2 separate regions of the Homo sapiens genome follow, and region 2 is linked to region 1. The links come from fine-mapping of genetic effects on gene expression. A gene starts in region 1. The other region holds a variant in brackets. All regions are shown on one strand. Distances are between the middles of the regions. Region 1 holds the start of CCN4 (cellular communication network factor 4). Region 2 overlaps TG (thyroglobulin).

The links. PIP is the estimated chance that this variant, and not a neighbour inherited with it, causes the effect. A credible set is the group of variants that fine-mapping cannot tell apart.
Region 2: its variant is the best candidate, but not a certain one, in a credible set for the expression of CCN4 in lung (TOPMed, PIP 0.51).

Annotation. Positions count from the first base shown.
Region 1 is chr8:133,188,352-133,192,738 of GRCh38, forward strand. CCN4 (cellular communication network factor 4) reads left to right here and starts at 2,688. Exons shown (of 5, transcript NM_003882.4): 1 at 2,688-2,862. The coding sequence starts at 2,794. RefSeq lists a silencer at 3,560-3,807.
Region 2 is chr8:133,003,253-133,007,639 of GRCh38, forward strand. The region is part of intron 35 of TG (thyroglobulin); the gene reads left to right. Among named protein-coding and RNA genes, the nearest start is that of MIR7848, 41 kb to the right of the region's middle. The variant C/T (reference allele first, on the strand shown) is at 1,997.

The DNA of each region.
Region 1 (4,387 bases):
GACTTTAGTTTCAGCCTCAGATCTACTACTCATACGTGTGCTCTGAAACCATCTAGCATCTCTGAGATGTGTTCCACCTATTTCATAACACTGTCTGCCTTGTAGTCATGAGATGCTCTACAGCACAGAGCCCGTTCATACTTAGTGTTCATCAAAAGCCAAGTGAGCCTAGATTGGCCCCTAACACCTTGGGTTATTTATTAATGACACCTGTCAACAATGCTGGCCTCCTAGGATTTATTTTTTGCTTTGTTTGTTTGCTTGTTTTGTTTTGTTTTTTGAGACAGTCTTGCTCTGTCACCCAGGTTGCAGTGCAGTGGCGCGATCTCGGCTCACTGCAACCTCTGCCTCCAGGGTTCACGCCATTCTCCTGCCTCAGCCTCCCGAGTACCTGGGACTACAGGTGCCCGCCACCATGCCTGGCTAATTTTTTATATTTTTAGTAGAGACGGGGTTTCACTGTGTTAGCCAGGGTGGTCTCGATCTCCTGACCTTGTGATCTGCCCGCCTCGGCCTCCCAGAGTGCTGGGATTACAGGTGTGAGCCACCGTGCCCAGCCTGGGATTTGTTTTTAAGCATCAATAAATTAATGAGAAGAAAATGACTGACATTTATTGGGCAGTCCTTACATGCCCCCCACATACCCTGCCCTTTAATTTTACATATATGATTTTAGTAATCCTCATGTATCAATTAGTATACAACTTGACTCCAACAAAAGAAAATTCAGACTAACTACAGTTTAAACAATAAAATATTAAATTATTTCATGTAATGAGAAGTCTGAATGGTGGCTCCAACAACAACATGAAGTCCCAACGACTCAGACCTTTTTTTTGCTTCCACTCTGCCATCCTCAATTTGTTGACTTTTTATTCTCAGCCTCATATACCCAAAATGGCTGCTGCAGCTCCAACCATCACATTTGCACACAAGGAAAGAAAAGAATGAGTAGATGGTCATTCTCTTCCTGAGGAAGGGAATCTTTTCTAGAAGACCCTAGCAGGTTTCCCTTATGTCTCATTGGCCGGAATTGGATCAGAGGCACATCCCCAGGTCAGTAAATGGAGAAATCATGAGCACCATCTCTTCTGGGGTCATGTCTATAGGGATCATAAACCTCTTCCATGAACACAAGCCTGCTGCTACCTCCAAGCAGCCACACATGCTTCAGCATCCCTTGTTAATAAGCTACAGGAAAAGAGAAGAGAAGGAGTAACTGTCATTTAAACCTCAGTGTCGAGTATTCCTACTGAGACCTGGAGATGCTGAGAACTTGCCAAGGTGTGAGAGGAGTTGCAAGGAGGCCATTGTGGTTGGGCATGGTGCACGAAAGGGAGAGAGGAAGAAGTGTACAGGGAGCTGGCTGGCCCAGGGGCCACGCCAGGACTGGGGACTCTGTGCTGTGTGATGGGCAGGCTTTGGACAGTTGTATCCAGAAGATGATCTATACATGACGCTAGTTCAAGGATTGCTCTGAGATGTGTGGATGGTAGAAGGTGGGCAGGGAGGCTGGGTATCAGTCAGGAGGCTGTGGCAGCGGTCCCCATGGGGAGCACAGGGCTGGACTAGGACAGCCCATAGAAGACATCCCATCTCCTTTCTTGCCCAAGGAAGAGACTCAGTGGCAGCAGTGCAATAAGGGTACAGGCCAGGAAACCCAACCCCCCAGGGATAGCAAGCATCCAGAGACACGTGGGGACAGCTCCAGCACCAAACGGCTTCTGACCAATGAGCAGAGACGGCAAACAGCAAATGCGTTACCGTGGCTTTCACGTGTCATGAAGGTGATGCTGTAACCTGAGCCTCAGAGCTCATTTTATTTGTGAATTCCTATCATCTCTAGATGGGTGGACTGAAAGCCACCTCTTTCGCTTGCAGCTAGGTAGAGGGGAGTGCAAGAGGGCAAATGAAAACCAGAAGTAGGGTTGGGCGCAATGCCTCACGCCTGTAATCCCAGCACTTTGGGAGGCTGATGTGGGCGGATTACCTGAGGTCAGGAGTTTGAGACCAGCCTGGCCAACATGGTGAAACCTCGTCTCTACTAAAAATACAAAAATCAGCTGGGTGTGGTGGCACATGCCTGTAATCTCAGCTATTCAGGAGGCTGAGGCAGGAGAATTGCTTGAGCCTGGGAGACAGAGGTTGCAGTGAGCAGAGATCGCGCCACTGCACTCCAGCCTGGCCGACAGAGCGAGACTCTGTCTCAAAAAAAAAAAAAAAAAAAAAAAAAAAGAAAAGAAAAGAAAAAGAAAAAGAAAAGGAAAAAGAAAACCAGAAGTAGGAGCAGCCTGAAGAAATGACAGGGAGTTGATTTCCCACTGGGAGCCCTCTCAAAGCCCACACACCCGCCTGCCTGGGGTAACAGTATCTCCTCGGACATCCTGCACCCTCCCATGCTCCCCCCTCCCTACAGTAGTGAAAGACCTAGGCAGGATGACCCCAGCTCCTCTGTGAGAATTTCACACCCTAGTGTGAAGTCATAGCCTTGTAACTTTCCCTTTAAGAACTGTCAGAGCTGGGGAGGCTGGCCAAGCTCAGGCTGGAGGTGGGGACAGAGGGAAGAAAGAAAAAAAAAAAAGAGAGAGAGGCAGGAAAAGTTTTTTCAGAGGAAAATGCAGGGTTTGTCCTTCACCCTGACGTCAGATCTTGCTTTAATAAAACCCCCCAAGGGCTGCGGAAGAGGCATATCTGGTGCTCCTGATGGGCCGGCCAGTCTGGGCCCAGCTCCCCCGAGAGGTGGTCGGATCCTCTGGGCTGCTCGGTCGATGCCTGTGCCACTGACGTCCAGGCATGAGGTGGTTCCTGCCCTGGACGCTGGCAGCAGTGACAGCAGCAGCCGCCAGCACCGTCCTGGCCACGGTGAGTCCTGCCTGGAGGGGCTCAGAGGGAGACCCAGCTCCCTTCTCTACTGGGTCCTGCTACATGGGGGCTGGTGGGCAGGATGAAAAGGGCCAGGAAGGTTTGGGGCTGGAAGGTGGCCACTTACAGGGCAAGGACAGAGCCCAGGGTGAGGAGTCAGCTGCCCAGGTTGGCTGAAGCTGGCAGGGTGAGGAGGACGGTGCGACACTTGGGGAAACAAACTGCACAGGTCCAGCCTGCCCTCTCTCCCCACCTGAAACAGTGCAGAAAGAACGGGGCCCTCAGCAGAACTGGGAGTCAGGGGCCCGGGCTCCAGACCCGTCTTCGCCTAACCTGGCTGTGTGGCCTCGGGTGGGTCACTCACCCTCCAGGAGCAGCGTAAAGCGACGAAGTTGTTAGGTGACTTCTAGAGTCTCTGAGTTTGAAAACTCCAAGACTCCAAGCATTGGAGATGCTGCGAAGATGGGAGATGGAAAAAGCCAAAAAAAATTGGAAAGAAAAATGCCAGCTTTCAACAAAAGCTCCTTATTGAGCAAACAGTGCTCAGGGTGATGTCTAACCCCAACTGCTGTCACCTCCGGTCTGCACAGCCCTCTGCAGTCTGCAGAGTGTCCATACTTGGGTCCTGCCTATGAAGCCTGCTGTTCCAGGGTGGGGGTGATGTGGGCACCCCAGAGTCTCTCTCTCTTCCACCTGCACCCCAGGGTACACCAAGGGGAAGGGACAAAGGTCTGCACCTCCAAAAGCCAGGGGAGTCACATATGTGACCGTGTAGAGCCAGCCTGCTAGGGCCAGGCATGGTGAGGAAAAGGCAGAGGCAGGCAGTGCAAGGAGGGCAGGAGGTGGGTACCTGGCAGCTTCTGAGCCCCAGATTCCACAGCCCAGGGCAGGACCTGCTCCTGGCAGAACAGCCTAGAGACGGAGGGGTGATGGCAAAAGAGTGTTTATCCCCAAATGACACTGATGGCTTCCTTGGGGGTTAAGAAGCCCCCTTCACAGATAAGGAAACCGTGTGTTGGGGTTAAACCACTTGCCAGAATCAGACTCTAGGTCTGCTTCAGCCAGAACTGAGGCCGAGAGCCGACAGCAAACTGAGACCTGGGAAATAGGAATTCCTCTCAATGCCTCGGTGTGTGTAATGATGGCGGGGAGTGGGTCTGTTTCATCTTGGTTAAATCCTCACGCCTGGCATGGTGCCTGACTATAGTTGGTTCAGAACCACCTTACCAGAAAGTTATCAGCTCCATTTCACAAATGAAAGAAATGGAAAGTGAGAGCAAGTAAAGGACTTGCCCAGGAGCTCCTCATTAATAAGTGGCCAGGGCCCAAACTTAGATCTTCTGATGCCAATTTCTAACCATTCCTACTTAGGGGAAGCTGACTGTGTCCTACAGGAGTGCCCAGAAGGAGCTAAGTCGCTGTTTATTTCGGCTCTGGGTATGGCTGCGCCTTTATTTGGGTATAGCTTTGCAGGTTGCTATGTCTGGGAGGGCAGGGAGAGGATGGAGAAAAGGTGAGCGTTTGA
Region 2 (4,387 bases), 190 kb before region 1:
GGGAAGAAAAGAGAATTAAACACGATTATCTACATATCAATGGAAAATTTCAAATATATTCTAGCATAATTTTTTTCTACTTAGTATCCATTAAAAAAGGGAATCATTGTGGAATGCTTAAATCAATCAAATGAACACAGCCATCCCTCGGATACTTATTTTTTTTTTTTTTTGTGGTGAGAACATTTGAAATTGATTCTCTTAGTAGTTTCGAAATGTGCCATATGTTAACTATAGTCACTGTGCTGTGTAATAGATCTCAAAAAGTACTCCTCTGCATCATATACATATATCATAACCTTGTATTATACCCCATAAATATGTATAATTATAATCTGTCCGTTAAAAATAAAAATTAAGCTTTAAAAAAGGGGATATGGTGCTTTCTAGAAAGGAATAGAAGTGCCTCCATGTCACCCAGAGGCCCGCCTGTGCAGAGACTGCAGCTGTGCTGCCTCCAGGTTGTGAGGTGACCCAAGCTGCCCCCATCACCTCCTGCCTCTTTGCTGCCCCCATCATCCCTCCCAGACCCTTCCTTCTCCTCTGCCCTTGTCCCCTCAGCAGCTCTGGTTTGCAGGGGGTATCACCATATAGGGCTGTCCTGGGTGCAAACACTGACTTGCTGCCTGCCTTTCAGCTGTTTGGTCTTGGGCAAGTCAGTGGCCCTCTGTGAACCTCACTTTTCCCTCCTATAAAGTAGGGTTAGGACAGTTCATCTCAATGAAGTACCATTAGATGGAACCAGTTAATCTTTACATGACTTTTTAAGCACTTCTTACCTGCTAAATAGATAGTAGCACTCATTGCTAGTCTATCTGGTCACAGAGGAAAGAGGCTGTATGACCTCAATGAGTCTCTCTTCCTTCAGGGCCACTGTTGCCCCTCTGCCCATGGAAGGGGCAAGGCCTCTTACTTCCAAGGGCATATTCTCCTCCAAGGCTTAGGGCCTTCTGGTGAGCTACTCCTACTCACTGAAAGAGTCACCAAGACCTTTAACCACCATGCTGTGGGGCTGTATAAGGGCTGGGAAGGTGCCTACTAGCTGCTGGGAATGAGGGCTGATCTGTCAATTACCACCTCAATGAGGAGATCCAAGACTATATAGCACAGCAGAAGAAAAGCACAGTTCCTGTGTCCTGCTGGTAGGACCTCAACTAAGTTCTGCACTGTGACCTGGGGCTGCCTCTGTAACCTTGGGGGTGCCTCTGTAACCTTGAATGATGCCTCTATAATCTTAGGTGGTGTCTCTATGGTCTGGGGGAGTATCCTGTGGTCTTTCCTCCAGTGCCTCAGTGTCCCCATCTGTTATGAAGATCAATGCGAGTTAACATAAGTAACTGAAATTACATTGTAAATCGATATTGTTTTCACTTCTGAATGTGTGTTGTGTTTGGTGAGTGGGTGAGAGTAGGGGACACACAGGACCACCCTGTAAAAGTGGAGGGTTGCAATGCAGCTGGAGTGACTGACCCTGCCAACCACACATCTGCCTGGTACCCTGGAGGACCATAGGTGGTGAGTGCTGTGACCAGATGCGGATGTTAGAACGGTTTTGGTTATCCCAGCACCAGCATGAGAATGGCCTGAGTGGGCTGAGACTCATGATCAGGAGGCCCTTGTTTGGAGCCTGCATGGTAACTGCAGTGAAATTGATGAGGCCAGAACCAGGTGGAAAAGAAAAGACAGTTCCTAGAGGGGCTGAGCATGTAGACTCCACTGGGAGGAGGCGATAAGGATGATAGGATTTCTGGTTTGGACAATGGAGGGAGTGGTGGAAACATTCCCTGAGGAAAGAAAGAACATGGTGTACGAGTGAAAAGGAGCACTGGGGGACAGTAATGGCTTCATTTTGGGACTTGCTAAGCTCGTGAAACCTTGAAACACTGAAGTTTATAGATGTTGCTGCAATTCAGCAGCAAGTTTCCCATGAAAACTGAGGCCCAGCCCATGGCACCGCAGGCACACTGCGCAGGAGGTGAGAGGCTGTGGAGGCCCT[C/T]CTGGGCAGGAAGCAAGCTGCCCTGGGACAGGGGGACAGGGGGACAGTGGGGCGAGGGGAGGAGGGGTCAGGTGGAAGTCAGGAGTCAGATGTTTGGTGGGGACATAACTGGCAGTAGTTTGGGCTCCTGTGCCCCTTAAAGGACACCCCTGGTACTTCCATCCAGGCTGAGAGCCCCATCATTTTGAAAAAACAGTGTCCAGACTGCATCAGGAACCAAGTAGCTTGACCCAGAGACGGTGAAGGTGGCTGTGTTTGCTGAGCATTTCCCCTGGGCAGCAGCTCACATCTAGTAACTCATTCATTTGTGGTTACAACCCTAGGAGAGACAGTCATTTAATATCACCATTTTATAGATAAGGAAACTGAGGCTCAGAGAAGGGGAGTGGCTTGCCCAAAGTCACACAGTGTAGTCTGGCTGCTTTACTGTGTCCCATTTTTGACATACACTCATAGCCAATTGTTAGTGTCAGCTGCTGGGTGTGTTCAACTCTTCTCTGGTTTCTGGCAATATAAGGGGGCCCTGATGTTATTCTCTAACCAGCGTTGGCTCCCCGGGAGGTGTGCAGAGGGCTGTGTGGTCTCGCACCACTAGGGAGCATGCCAGTGAGCATGGAGGGCATCCCTTCTTACCAGGCAGGACAGTCACTGTGTAGGAGCCAACCTGTCCGGCTTTCCTCTCGGCTCACCTCTCCCTCCTACTCCATCTTCTCCCTGCACTGGAGGAAAAGAACTCCTTTCCTGAGGCCTGGATCCAAGGGCCTCAGAGCAAAGGTGCTGATGGATTAATTTACCCCACAAACGCAATGGTCCATGTGTCATCTACAGAGAGACATTATGCTTATTAGAGATCATGAACAAGGGCAATGCGTAACACAAAGATCTTTAAAATTAGAGTTTCTCAGAGTAGTTAAGGGACTTGCCTGAGGACACACAGTGTCAGGCTGAGTGAGGTTTAGAACTCAGAACTGTTTCTTCACTAGCCTAAGCTGTGTCTCCAGCAATCATGGCCAAAACAAAACCAAAACCAAAAAGGATATCTTAGAGACCACAGTCATTTTCAAACTTGGACGTGTGTCGGAATCACCAGGAAAGTTAATAGACTACAGAGGCCCCAGCTCTTTGAAGTGAGAACTGGGCCTGGACTTTGGAATTCTTGTCACATTTCTCAAGAGAATCTGATGCTCACCCAAGTTTGAGAACTACGATGGACGGGTAAGAATCATCTTAAATGTTTTGGCTTCTTAGACTGTTTTTCCAGGCTGCCACCGTTGGCTGTCAGGTACAGTCCTGGAGTATCAGAGGAGGCCCGTAAATAGTTGTTGAATGAATACATGATTGAAAGAACAAATATACACAGCTGACTTAGTTAATACCGCAGGTTTCCAATCTACTGCCTCGTGGAGGCATATCCTTGCTAGACCGGAATATAGTTTTGGTCCTGTTTTCAAAGTAACCACACAACAAAGAGCCTATTAATATTATGAATAGTCAGTTGTATTTTGATAGTAATAGAAAAGCCAGTAGACTTGAACAGGAAAAAATAGGCAAATAATTTAAAAGATGAGATGTTAATTTTTTAGTTATAGGTTTTTTGAATCACGATTTCAGTTTTGAATTTTTTAATGTGATTTGGCCAGTGGTTTTAAAATGTGTATTAGAATGGGCCATAATATGTAGTCAGTTGGAATCTCAGAAAACCTGGCACGTTTTAAGGTTTCACAATTTTATTTTGGCCATTTTTATGTTAATTTTTTTTTAGTAAACTCCTGTCACCCAGGGAGATATTTGTTGAAGTGTTGACTGGAGGTTGGCTGTCCGGTATTTTGTTGTTTTAGTTTGGGATGATTTATTTTTTATTGCAAGAATTTAGTAAAGCAGGCAGAGTTCAAAAGACAGAGCCTTTTTAATTTAGGCCTTTAAAATTATGGACTTTATTTTTATGCTAAGTCTGAAATGTCATGGGACTGGAGTGGCGCTGGAAGGAGTAAGACCGGGAGAAGGGGGAGGAGAGGCGGGGACGGAAGAAAACACAAGAGTTGACTTTGTAAGTTTTTTTAATGTGTTTTTAAATTTTTTTTTAAGTTTATGGAGTCCTTTTGTTTCCATTGAGTGTGTAGATCAATTAGTTTGGGGATTTTTTACAAGGCTTTTTTTGTGCCCGTTAAAGTCTTTAATTTTTCTTGGGCCAGATATTGTTACACAGACCAAAAATATAGCCAGCCAGATAAACAAAAACTAGAATTAGACCAGACTGAGTATTTTAGTGGAGGTAGGTTTTTAGTATTAGCTTCATTTTTGGAGAACTCAAGTCTAAATTATATTTGGGACTTGACCCTGATCAGGATTTGTTTTAGGACGGAACTCGAACTTATAATTTTAGACAAGGAT